Homo sapiens: one gene and its partner. The protein of the gene in region 2 interacts with the protein of the main gene of each other region in a pairwise test. Each region holds a gene or a part of one and is shown on either strand. Other genes may lie near its edges.

Region 1 (7,040 bases), on a different chromosome or scaffold from region 2:
ATAAGTTGGAGAACAGTGAGCAGAATTCAGCCGCATAGCTAATTTTTGCTAAGGGCACACATTAGGAACGTAAGAATATTACCTGCTCAACATTGCTCATATCAAGCCAGTCTTGATCTTCTAGCTCTACTGCCATTTCTTCCAAATACACACAACGGCTAGGGATGCCATTCCCGCTTTTCAAGCTGGGATCACCTGGGAAATGGTTTTAATATGATAGGTTAAGGATAATGCTTCTGTTTTATACAGACAACTGATCTTGACAGCATCACTCTTGAACTGCAAATCTGACTCAAGTAATACCAGAATGATCCTGATACACAAAGCAACATCTAAAGATTCAAATCTTTTTTTTTCCCCCTCTAGTCACAGAGAATGGGATTTGTTATAAACCTAGCATCATGACATTTAAAGAGTAAATCCCAGACATTAGTACCAACCTTGGGGTTTAAACACAGACAGGGCACAGAGGGCAAACACTCTCTGATGCCTCTGAAGGCTTCCATCTGAATATTTAGGTTACCTCTGAGAAGAAAATGGGTTTGGCTACCCTTCCCATTTCCTTTTTAAGGTAGTAAAGGCAAGTAGCTATATAGTGCAGTCAGTATTGAAATGGGAACAAAAGTTAGATCTGCATCTAAATACTGTTTTTAGGTCATACCAAAAGGTTCACTGAAATATAAACCCTGAGTTCCAGGGAGTGCAGTGAGTAGGTTTGTATCTAACCATTAGCTGTAACCAGTTTCAAAGAGCAAGCCCCTAGCCCAAGCTCAAATAGGAAGGGTAGAATAATGCTATAAGTTTGTAACTCACTGTTGTCCAGAGTAATAAGGAAGATCCTTTGGATCATGTGATTGATGTTGAGTTGCTCACATATTTCCTGCTGTGATCGGAATGAGCGGCTAATCTCAGCCACAGAGTAATCGAATTCATCCAGGCTCTCTGACACGCTATTATCCGAGTCATCTGGGCTAGCTGGGAGTTCATCTGCCAGAAAATGTATACTGTTAAATGTTACACCCCTTTAAGAGAGAACCAAGCATGCTACCAAAAATAATAAATGTAACCAAGAAGATGATAATTTCAGATGTAAAACAAGCTAATCATCTAATTAGTGAACATCTCAAGTCAGGGAAGTTAAATATAGGGTTTTGAAATTCCTGGCTATAAATCCTACCACATTTTACAAAGCAAAAGTTTTATTTCTATCCATAATTATACTCCACACTGCCAGAAATAGCAAAGTTATCTTCTCTACAGAATCCTAGTGAACAAAGAATTACCTAATAGATCAAAATGCCTTTAATTATTTTAAATGTATGGCTTTTCTCCCTGATTTTAAGAGATAACATTTGTTTTAATAGTTCTTAACTGTACAGAAAAATATAGTATAGAAAGTCTCCTGAACCAATTCCCTAAAGACACTTAACAGTGTTCAAGAATTTTTTTCTTTTCTGGTGCTAATATTCATTACTATCTTTTTAATTTTTTTAAAAAATGGGATACTATACATAGCTCTTTTCAGCTTGCCTTTTAATCAGCACCAACACCTTTCCCTGTTAGGCCATTTAGAGGCCTACCTCACTATTTTTAATAGCTGTATTGTATCACATCTTTTGCATGCCCTGTGGTTTATGTAGCTACTTTTCAACTGATGAACAATAGGGTTGTTTCTAATATTTCATGATTTTAAATACTGCACTGAATACAATACAACTTAACTCTTTTTGTTTACTTGTATGAGTATTTCTATAGGATAAATTCACAGTAGCAGAACTGCTGGATCAAAGAGCTTGAACATTTAAAAAGTTAACATTTACTGCCTGGCACGGTGGCTCACACCTGTAATCCCAGCACTTTGGGAGGCTGAGGCAGGCGGATCACGAGGTCAGGAGATTGAGACCATCCTGGCTAACATGGTGAAACCCCATCCCTACTAATACAAAAAATTAGCCAGGCGTGGTGGCACACACCTGTAGTCCCAGCTACTCGGGAGGCTGAGGCAGGAGAATTGCTTAAACCCGGGAGGCAGAGGTTGCACTGCACTCCAGCCTCGGTGACAGAGCAAGACTTCGTCTCAAAAAAAAAAAAAAAAAAAAGTTAACATTTACTACCAAGTTACCCTCAAAGAGACTGTCTGATTTACATGCAAACCCAACAGTATATGAGAGAGTGCCTGTTTGAATCTTCACAAATTTCATAGGTAAAAAAACAATTTAATGGTTGTTTTAATTGGCACTTCTCTAATGATTGATGAGAATAAATTTTTTAATCATTTGGTTATAAGTTGCATGTCACATCTTTTGTACCTTTTTATTCTTTCTTGTTATTTTTTTCTTATTGATGAAATTCCTTCGATTTTTTTTTTTTTAAACTTCTGTCCTCAAAATCTGCTCCCATCCTTTGATTTTTTTTTTTGAGATGGACTCTCACTCTGTCGCCCAGGCTGGAGTGCAGTGGTGTGATCTCGGCTCACCGCAACCTCTACCTCCCAGGTTCAAGTGATTCTCCTGCCTCAGCCAAGTAGCTGGGACTACAGGCGCCCACCACCACGCCCGGCTAATTTTTGTATTTTTAGTAGAGATGGGGTTTCACCATGTTGGCCAGGCTGGTCTCAAACTCCTGACCTCAGGTGATCCGCCCACCTTGGCCTCCCAGAGTGCTGGGATTATAGGCGCCTGTCATCATGCCCGACTAATTTTTGTGTTTTTAGTAGAGACGGGGTTTTGTCATGTTGGCCAGGCTGGTCTCGAACTCCTGACCTCCGGTGATCTGCCCACCTAGGCCTCCCAAGGAGCTGGGATTACAGGCGCGAGCCACTGCGCCCAGCCCCATCATTCATGTTGAATGACTACATAAAAGTAGTGTTATTCACTATATGCCACATATGAGTCTATATGTACTTTTCTCTATTGACAGAATGGCTAGTCTGAAAGTCCAGGTAAAACTCTCAAAGTAAGAGTTGTTTCAGTGTGGTGAGTATAAGCTCAACATAGGAAGCCAAAGGTTTTGGCAAAGTACTAATTGCTAGTGGAAACAGGTTGGACCTGGTGGCATGATAAACTCAGTGTAAACAAACTAGGATGATGAGGTGCCAAAATAGTAACAGAAGGGCATGTGCCTGCAATGCTCCCAACTCTAGCCAGATTTATGTCTGTTTATAGCCAGAAGGACAAGCGTTCTGTTGCTCAGCTGCTATACTGTTGAGTTTTTCTCTGACCTCCAATGGTGACAGAAGCTAAGAATCTGTTTAGCAAAATTTCCCTCAACCACATACTCATAAATCATACTTTCTCATTCCTTATTTTTCCTATTTTTCACTCTGCTTTTTCCCCTACAATCTTCTAAACCAGAGTTTCCCATTCTGGCCCCGTATCATAGAAATCTGGGAGAGATTTCAGAGACTGAAAATACCATGTTAAAAAAAATCAACATTGATTTTGTTTTTCCCTTGCATCAATCACTTATCTGTCTTGCCTTTACCTCTTTTTTCTTCAGCCCTTTCTAACTGAAAGGCCAAAAGTCAGCTATGCACCTGAGTGTTTTTTTTTTTTTTAAATAAACAAAATAAAGGGAAAATGCAAACACTTCTCCTTCTCTCAAAAGAAAAACACTATTATTCTTTTCGGAGAGAGGAGAAGGGGAGCAATTTCTGGTTTGAAAGATTGTGAATATCTTCAGAAGACTAACATATTTGAGAAAAATCCTAATTCTTCTAGTGTATATGTCTCCTTATAGGAGGAAGCTGGACTTGATCTTAAATTCGGTGCCTGAAAGAAAACCATTTTTTCTGATTACTGAGATGTTATTCTGATGTTTTTCATAGTAAGGCTAAGGATCAGATTTTTTAAAAAAGTCTGTCCTAACAGGACTAAGCTACAAATGATGCCACTCATCGGAACAGAAGAAGCACTTTGCTTGGGAGGGCCTTTGAAGTGCTGAGCTTAAGAACAAGTCTCATTTGCCTACAGGTCAAAAAGCTTTTATAGTTCTTCCTTTTACATCTGCTTTCTATAGCTGCACATGACTTGCTTTCTACACCTACACTTACCACCTCTGTGTCCCATGTTAAAAACATTTATTTAAATAGCTTTTACTAGGTGATTTTTTTTTTCTTTTAAAGAAAACAGCCTGACAGCTTTGGGATCACGACTGGCATCTGTTACTATGGAACCACCTGTTACCTGGTCTCTTTTTGTACAGTGGAGAGGACAGCGGAGGGGAGGGACTCACAACAAAACCAACAATAAAAGCAAACAAACAAAAAACCCCAATTTCTGCTCTCAACAAACAAACAAAAACCAACTTTTGTTCCAAACTTAAATTCCAATTGCAATTAAGGACTCAAAGAATACTTAATTTGGGAAGACCCCATTCTAGGTCATCTTATTTGCTGCTATTGGCTCCTCCACTTACCAGATTGTTGCTTCAGCTGCTCTTTTTGGATTGCCGCAAACTGTTTGGCATCAGCCAGGGAGCCAAAAAGAGCAGCAAAGGGGTTACTTGAGATGTTGTTGTTATTCTCCTGGTCTGTCATTTCACTTTAAGGTATCCTCCATCCAGACCTAGTGGGAGAGGCTGTTCAAAGGACAGGTATTAGACACAAGAGGGCAGATGACACAATAGCTGTAATATACCTGTGGTTGTTTCTTTTCCCATTTCTCAAATACAATACATTTTAAAATACTTTGGGTTAAGATTTTCCAATTCCTGTCCCCAAACTCAAGACATTTTTGGCAAAATGGTTACAAACCTACCAGCTGGACTCGGTGGCTTGATTTGTGGATAGCTGAAACTAAAAAGGCTAAAACGTTCAGCTGGAATGCATTAATCTGTTGATATACTTTTATTTGCAATACCTTTAAGAAAACAGGTTAAGTAGAAAGAATTATTGAAGTCAAAGAGAGAACTCACCTACTAATTGTAATAACAATGTGGCACTGAAAAATAATAAGACAAGAATTATGGATTTCCCAAGAATTAAGCTGGCAGTCTAGTTCTCATTCACTGGGGTGAGGACAAGGGACTTCTATGACTTAGGGCTGGGGATGGATATTTCTCAGCTACATATAAATTAAGTAAAAGCCCATATCTTAGATTTGGACTCTGGCAAATCAGGACTGGAAGCAGTTCAGCTGTATGTTGTGGGTTTTTAACATAGATTAAGCAATCTATTTATTTCTAGGCTTAAAAATACTGATATTTCTTCCACTAAAAATTAAATGGTCTTTGCTTCATGCTATATCTAACCTTCACTGTTTACCTGATTTCTTAAAATAATACTGAAGAAACACGAATTCCAACGGTCAGGTCTACTGTGTAATATGAAATATAGATACCTCAAAGGTGTTTAGTAGAGCTGGCTGAGCCTGCATTCACACTCTTCTGATTACATTTCCTCATTCAAGACCAAGTGAACTCAGTGGCACAACAGAATAAACAGGGCTCCCTGAAAGGCTTTCTCCCCTTTCTGAAATTTTAAGGCCATGACATAGAAATATTAAATACAACACTGAAAAGGGTGGGAAGAGACAAAGGGTATGAATGTTTTGTTCATAAGGATCTTGAACTGCTATAAGGACAGAGACCTTAGAAATAGCGGGAGTAGGGGTATAAAGGAAGAAAAAAAGAACATTTGGTCTACCTTTGGTTTATTGAGGCAAGACTCCTCACAGGATCATATCAACAAAAGCTAATGTGGGCCAGGTGCAGTGGCTCATGCCTGCAATCCCAGCACCCTGGGAGGCTGAGGCAGGTGGATCACCTGAGGTCAGGAGTTCAAGACCAGCCTGGCCAACATGGTGAAACCCCATCTCTACTAAAACACGAAAATTAGCCAGGCATGGCGGCAGGTGCCTGTAATCCCAGCTACTTGGGAGGCAGGAGGCTGAGGCAGGAGAATTGCTTGGACTCGGGAGGCAGAGGTTGCAGAGAGCTGAGATTGTGCCACTGCACTTCAACCTGGGTGACAGAGCGAGACTTCGTCTCAAAAAAAAAAAAAAAAAAAAAAAGCTAATGTGGTCGAAAAAGTTACCCTTATTTACCAGAGAAAGAGATTATTTATAACATTTCTTGACAATTCTGAGGCATCTTCAGCACTTGCTTCATGCTCCTCTGCCATTTTTTCCACACAAGAGCTAACGGCTAATTAGCTGTAATGACTTAGGCAGTCTAGTCTCCTCTCAGTGCAGCTCAAAGCTTTACTGCTTCAAGGAATTGAACTGTTATTTGGATTTTTAGTAGAGACGGGGTATCACCATGTTGGCCAGGCTGGTCTCGAACTCCTGACCTCAAGTGATCCTCCCACCGCGGCCTCCCAAAGTGCTGGAATTATAGGCATGAGTCACTGCGCCTGGCCTTCTGTATTTTATTTTTTGCTATGTATATTTCAGTAAGCTTAATAATGCAAAAAAAGGGAAAGATACCATATTTAGTATTGAAATTAATGAGAGGGATTTTCCCCATGTAATTACCGCACAAGTTTAATTATTACCTGTAGTTAATGTAAAAACACCAAGAATTGTCTTATTGTTAGCTGACCACCATTCTACTTCCATCCTAAAATACCACAAATTCCAGAGGAATGCAAAAAGTATATTGAGCTCTTGTTATTTCTCTCTCTAAAACATCACATTCATTTTTTTCCTTTGGGTATCCACTCCACTCAATCCAGAAGAGGCTGACCAGTTCAGAAGGGGTTGACCTCACCCACTAGCCCCAGGAATGAACATACAAGTCTGGCCAGGCTAAAAAGAATACAGCATTTTCCAGCCAAAGCAACTGATCCAGGAGTGGGCACAAGACACTATGGAGGCCTAACAGAGTCAATGAATACCAGCTTCAGGACTTCAGCTGAATCTACGGAAAAGTGAGTTTTCTCCTGATTGAGTTGATAAGCCAGTAAGATAGAGTTGCCATCTTTACACCATTTAGAAAAGGCCTAGCCTAAAACCAAGCCAACATACACTAGAAAACAGAATTGAGAGATGGAAAGATAAGTCTGGACTTTTCAGTTATAAAAACCAATAAAATTTCCCTAA
Region 2 (7,040 bases):
AGTGACCATTAAGAAGTAGATGCCAGCCCGGCACAGTGGCTCATGCCTGTAATCCCAGCACTTTGGGAGGCCGAGGTAGGTGGATCAACTGAGGTCAGGAGTTCGAGACCAGCCTGAGCAACATGGTGAAACCCTGTCTCTACTAAAAATACAAAAATTACCCGGACGTAGTGGTGGGTACCTGTAATCTCAGCTATTTGGGAGGCTGAGGCAGGAAAATTGCTTGAACCCAGGACGTAGAGATTGCAGTGAGCTGAGATTATGCCATTGCACTCCAGCGTGGGCAATAAGAGAGAAAAGCCATCTCAAAAAAAAAAAAAAGTCGAAGCCCAAATGTAGAAGTTATGGAACAGTCAATTTGTTATTAAATTAGATGCAGTGTAGCTTTTCACCCAAATTAAAACAAACTTGCGTTTGTATTTCTCAGAAGAAAATTCTACAGATGGTCTATAAATACGTTTATACACCATTTTCAGATGGTGTATATTTTCAGATACAAGCACGATACCATTATCATACTCAAGAAATTCTCAATTGATACAGTAAGATTATCTAATTTGTCCGTATTCAGATTTCCCAGTTGCTCCAATAATGGCCCTTTTAACTTTTCTTCCCTTGATTCAAGATCCAGTCAAGGATTGTTCATTGCATTTAGTTTAGGCTCTGAATCCAAGACACTTCTTGTTTGCATTTTTCATGATTTAGACATTTTGAAGAGTCTAGGTTAGTTGTTTCTACAATGTCCTTTGATCTGCTCCCTGTTCTATCATTAGATTCAGGTTAAACTCTGATAAGAACATTACCAAGATAATGTTTTGTCCTTTCCATTACTCATATCAGGAGACAAGTAATATGAGATGTATGCATTATTGGAGCTGTAAAGTTTAATTATTTGGTTAGGATGTTGTCTGTTGGGTACCCTTTTCATTTTCTAATATATAAGTTGTCTATGGGGTGATTCAAATGGTAAATATCCTACTGCTTAAAAACTTCACCCGGTGGTTTCAGCATTCATTGATTTTTGCTGTAATCACCTATTTCATTGATGTTTAAAAATTGTGGTATTTTTCTCATTCTGTTTTTTTCTACATTTATCAGCTAGCATTCTTCTGTAGAGAAATGCTTTGATCTACCCCCTCTACTTTCCATCTGCCCACCCCCGCCCCCTTTTTCCAGTAAACTACTTATTGGACACCAGCACCCAGATGAAGGAATAGAAAATTACCAGTGCTAGTCTGGCATGGTGGCTCACGCCTGTAATCCCAGCACTTTGGGAGGCCAAGGTGGGCGGGTCACCTGAGGTCAGGAGTTCAAGACCAGCCTTGCCAACACAGTGCAACCTTGTCTCTATTAAAAATACAAAAATTAGCTGGGCGTGGGGGTGTGCATCTGTAGTCCCAGCCACTGAGGAGCCTGAGGTAGAAGAATCACTTGAACCCGGGAGGCAGAGGTTGCAGTGAGCCGAGATCGTGCCACTGCACTCCAGCCTGGGCGACAAAGTGAGACCTTGTCTCGGAAAAAAAAAATGAAAGAAAGAAAATTAACAGTGCCTAATAAGCTTTCCTAATGCCCCTTCCCAATTATGGATTCCCTCCATAAGATGATCACTATCCTGAATCGAACACTGTAGGTTAGTTGTCTGTTTGTGAACTTTGTGATGGAATCATGCAACGTGTATTTTTGTGTTTGATCTCCTTTGTTCAGCTTTGTATTTTGAGGCTTATCCGTGTTGCATGTCACAGTAATTGGTGCACTCTCATTGCTTTATAGTATTCTGTTTGACTCTACCTTGATTTATTAATCCATTCTACTGTTGGTGGACATTAGGATTGTTTTCAGTTTGGGGCTATTTGAATAGAACTGCTATGAGGAATATTCTTGTATATGTCTTGGTGAACATGTGTACACATTTCTTTTGGGCATATATATGAAGAAGCGGGAATTTCTGGGTTATACATAGTGATCAAACAGCTTTCCAAAGTGGTTAGGCCAATTTACAGTTCCCCTTAGCAGTTAAGACATGTCACAGATGCTTTTTTTTCTCTCATGTGTTACTATCCATTTCTCTATTCTTTTTGGTGCACAAATTGCCCCAAATTTGACTTGTTGGAATCCCCTTCATATTGGGTCTTCTGGCTTTTTGACAGTACTCACTCCCTTGATTGCTGGCACACATTGTTCAGTTTGGTATACACCAAACACTTTTAGAGAAAATACCATTTTCATTTAAAAAAATGAAATATAATTCACTACCATGAAATTGAAAGTGTACAATTCAGTGAGTTTTAGTATATTCACAAGGTTGTGCATCCACTACCACTGTCTAATTTCAGAATCATTATTTTATTTTTTAAATTTTTTTATTTTTTTGAGATGGAGTCTCACTTTGTTTCCCAGGCTGGAGTGCAGTTTCACCATCTCGGCTCACTGCAACCTCCGCCCCCCAGGTTCAAGCGATTCTCCTGGCTCAGCCTCCTGAGTAGCTGGGATTACAGGCGCATGCCACCACACCTGGCTAATTTTTGTATTTTTAGTGGAAACAGGGTTTCACCATGTTGGTCAGGCTGGTCTCAAACTCCTGACCTCGTGATCTGCCCACCTCGGCCTCCCAAAGTGGTGGGATTACAGGCATGAGCCACCGTGCCTGGCCGATTTTATTAGTTTTTGAGATGGGGTTTCATTACGTTGCATTACACTACCATGCTCAGCTGATTTTATATTATTATTTTTTTTTCCTGAGGCGGAGTCTCACTCTCGCCCAGGCTGGAGTACGGTGACATGATCTCGGCTCACTGCAACTTCCGCCTCCCAGGTTCAAGCGATTCTCCTGTCTCAGCCTCCCGAGTAGCTGGGTTTACAGGCGCTCACCACCACGCCCAGATGTTTTTCTATTTTTAGTAGAGACAGCGTTTCGCCGTGTTGGCCAGGCTAGTCTCAAACTCCTGACCTCAATTGATCCGCCTGCCTCGGCCTCCCAAAGTGCTGGGATTGATTACAGGTTTGAGCCACCGTGCCCAGCCTGATTTTTTATTTTTTGTAAAGATGGGGTCTCAAGTTGTTACCCAGACTGGTTTCGAACTCCAGGGCTTAGGCTATCCTCCTGCCTCAGCCTCCTGCAGTGCTGAGATTACACATGTGAGCCACCACACCCAGCCTCCATTTGTTTGTTTATTTCAGACAGGGTCTCCCTTTGTCACCCAGGCTGGAATGCAGTAACGCGAACGTGACTCGCTGCAGCCTCGACCTCCCGGCTCAAGCAATTCTGTTACCTTAGCCCCTAAAGTAGCTGGAACTACAGGCACACGCCACCATGCCTGGCTAATTTTTGTGTTTTCTGTAGAGACAGAGTTTTGCCATGTTGCTCAAGCTGGTCTTTAGCTCAAGAGATCCACCAACCTCAGCCCTCCCAAAGTGCTGGGATTACAGGCATGAGCCACTGTGCCCAGCCTCCATTCATTTTTAACTGATGAACTTCTTACAGTTGAGAATCAAGTTGGTGTTAGTAATTTGGTATTAATAATTTGCTGGCCTTAAGTTTTTATTTTTACAGGTTTTTTTTTTTTTTACCATAGTGCTGTTTAGTTTTATATAAGGAGTAGAGCATTTATAAGTCACTGATTTATGTATTTGTTTGAAAATGTATTTGTAGATTTTAAAGTCAATATCAGGTAAATCAGAAAAAAAGGGAAACTAATCATAAGTGGGAAGTGAGGCATTTAGAATGAAGCTAGGCTTCTGATGGGCTCTCGTTGACTCCAGGATTTCTGTAGGGGCCTGAAGCCAGGCAGATAAATAGTTGCTTGCTTTTTGTTTGTTTGTTTCTTTATTTCTCCAATTGTTTTAGCTAAATCCATCTCCTAAATGTGTTTTATATTAATATGATGTGTCTCAATTAGTGGTGGTTTTTTTTTTTTTAATACAGACTAACAAAAAAACTTGAAGAAAGGAGAGAAGAGAAAAGAAAAGAGGAAGAACAGGTAAAGTTCATGCAGTTAGCATTGTTTTGTCCTCTCATTAACTGAGGTTGTGATTGATTATTCTATTCAGTGTGGCAGGCCTAGGGTGACTTCATAGTTTTAGTTCAGTGTTGCAGCACTATGAAGATAATTCCTGTTTTCTCTAGTAGAGTCATAGTATATACATTTTTTGTGTTCTTTTCGTAAATTACTATGAATAAATTAGACCATGCTTTTTCCCTCTGCAATGATTTTTTTTTACACTAAGAATAAAGGGACTTGAGCTAAAATGTTTGGCTTGAGGTTGAACAAAGTTTTAGTTCATTTTTGTGAAAAAATGTATAGACATTTTGCTGAATTTTTCCTCTCCTGTTAAGCATTCTAGCACATGGTTCATTTTTCTCACCATGTATACCTAACTGTGTAGCATGTCTTTGGAGTTCTAATATAGGAAGGTTACCATTTCATTCAAGCCAAATACGTGACTGCCATGTTGTCCCTGAAGGGTAATATATTTACCCTCATGACTAAAGACCTGTAATTATGCTTGCCTTCAAATTACACTGACTACATTATTATCTTAACAGACCATTGGCAATGATTTATAGATTGATAGACATTTGACCATTAACCATGCCATTAATAAACTCGTCTAGACTTACATTTTATGAAGTTTTATTCTTTTAACTGCAGTTTTCGTTGCATTCAAAATAATATCTGGGGCAGATTATCAAGTTTTTGGATCATAAAACTTTTTCTTTAATTCAGAGAGAAATTAAGAAGGAAATTGAGAGGAGAAAAACTGGAAAAGAAATGTTGGATTATAAAAGAAAACAAGAAGAAGAATTAACAAAAAGAATGCTGGAGGAAAGAAACAGAGAGAAAGCAGAAGATAGGGCAGCTCGAGAACGTATAAAACAGCAGATTGCATTGGTAAGTCTTAAGTTTCCAGACATTCGTGAAACTGTTTTTCTGTGCACAGTAGCTTTAGATTACTACCAGACTGTGCACACAAAAATAGATTTTAGTGACTCATAGACTACCAATCCTGAGCTTCCTTTTATTAGAAATTGTAAATGAATTAAAATAGTTAAGATTAAAATTGAGTTGATTTTTTTGAAGTGATTTTTATTCATATTTTGTTAATTTATGACTTTTATCAGCATTCAAAAAGCAGCTTTTAAAGATTCCCTAGAAAATAAGCTAAGTACTAGTACCTACTACTAGTACTAAGTACCTACTAGTAGTAACTACTAGTACTAAGTACCTAGTAGTTCTTCTGTAGTCACAGGCACACTTTTTTGCAACATTGAAAGGATTTAGGCACATCATAAAGCTTAGTTTGCAACAATTGCTTTTATAATTCATCAGCTGCAATACATATTAAAACCATCCCGCCAGGTGTGGCTCACGCCTGTAATCCCAGCACTTTGGGAGGCTAAGGAGGGCGGATCACCTCAGGTCGGGAGTTCAAGACTTGCCTGGCCGACATGGTGAAACGCCATCTCTACTAAAAATACAAAAATTAATCGGGTGTGGTGGTGGGCGCCTATAATCCTGCTACTTGGGAGGCTGAGGCAGGAGAATCACTTGAACCTAGGAGGTGGAAGTTGCAGTAGGCTGACATGGTGCCATTGCACTCCAGCCTGGGCGACAAAAAGCGAAACTCCATCTCAAAAAAAAGAAAGAAAGAAAAAAAGCCATCCCTACCTTAATATTTTTGTTCATTTGGTCAGTCAACAAGTATTTGTTGAGCATTTATTATTTATTTATTTTTGAGATGGAGTTTTAGTCTTGTTGCTCAGGCTAGAGTGCAGTGGCGCAATCTTGGCTCACTGCAACTTCCACCTCCCGAGTTCAAGCAATTCTCCTGTCCCAGGCTGCCAAGTAGCTGAGGTTACAGGTGCATGCCAACATGCCCAGCTAATTTTTGTATTTTTAGTAGAGACGGGATTTCATCACATTGGTCAGGCTGGTCTGGAACTCCTGACCTCAGGTGATCCACCCACCTCGGCCTCCCAAAGTGCTGGGACTACAGGCGTGAGCCACCACACCCAGGCTTGTTGAGCATTTATTATGTACCAGACCTTGTTCCAGGCTTTGGAGATACAGTAGTGAGCAAATTCATTTCCTTGTTTCCTTAATAATAATTCTGGTCTCCGACAGTTGATAAAACTAAAAAATAACAGTTCCAGAATGTTAAAGTTCACATATGGTGTTAGACAATTTCAGGCAGCAAAGGCACAGTGGCTCACAACTGTAATCCCAGAATTTTGGGAGGCTGAGGTGGGAGGATTGCTTGAAGCCAGGAGTATAAGATCAGCCTGGGCAACAAAGTGAGACCCCACCTCTACAAGAAAAGAAAAAAAATTAGCTGGGCATGGTGGCACACACCTGTAGTCCCAGCTACTCTGGAAGCTGAGGTGGGAGGATTGCTTGAGCCCAGGTGTTCAGAGGCTGCAGTGAGCTATGATTGTGCCACTGCACTCCAGCCTTGATGACACAGCAAGACCCTGTCTCTTAATAAAAAAAAAAAATTCCATGCATATTTGTTTGGAATTGTGTGAATTAACCATTCTGGCAGTAAAGGTAATTGGTATTTAATGATGTTTTAAAGGACCGTGCAGAGAGAGCTGCTCGTTTTGCAAAGACAAAGGAAGAAGTAGAGGCTGCCAAAGCTGCTGCCTTGCTAGCAAAACAGGCAGAAATGGAAGTCAAGAGGGAATCTTATGCAAGAGAAAGAAGGTACTATATTTCATGCTGAAACATCTCTGTGCACATAGGGGCTGAGGAGAATGATTATAAGCTGGTTTTTAACACTGATGTATACTGTGGTTATAAGCAGTCCATTCCAGAGGGACATATTAATTTGACAGCTCCCAATGGTATCTCTCATTTCGTGTGAGTGTACACTAAAAAAGTACTACATAAATAACTTTAAAAGAGGGCCCAATAGCCGGGCGCGGTGGCTCACGCCTGTAATCCCAGCACTTTGGGAGGCCGAGACGGGCGGATCACGAGGTCAGGAGATCGAGACCATCCTGGCTAACATGGTGAAACCCCGTCTCTACTAAAAATACAAAA

What was found.
Region 1: the proteins of UBXN4 (region 2) and UBE4A interact in binary tests that used the Homo sapiens proteins (3 or more experiments, as listed by UniProt).

The regions. Positions count from the first base shown.
Region 1 is NC_000011.10:118,362,578-118,369,617, reverse strand, and holds part of UBE4A (ubiquitin conjugation factor E4 A), read right to left. Parts: intron 4,579-7,040; 5' UTR 4,538-4,578; coding exon 4,417-4,537; intron 988-4,416; coding exon 814-987; intron 196-813; coding exon 83-195; intron 1-82.
Region 2 is NC_000002.12:135,765,847-135,772,886, forward strand, and holds part of UBXN4 (UBX domain-containing protein 4), read left to right. Parts: intron 1-3,922; coding exon 3,923-3,977; intron 3,978-4,724; coding exon 4,725-4,889; intron 4,890-6,573; coding exon 6,574-6,701; intron 6,702-7,040. UniProt on the Homo sapiens protein: Involved in endoplasmic reticulum-associated protein degradation (ERAD). Acts as a platform to recruit both UBQLN1 and VCP to the ER during ERAD.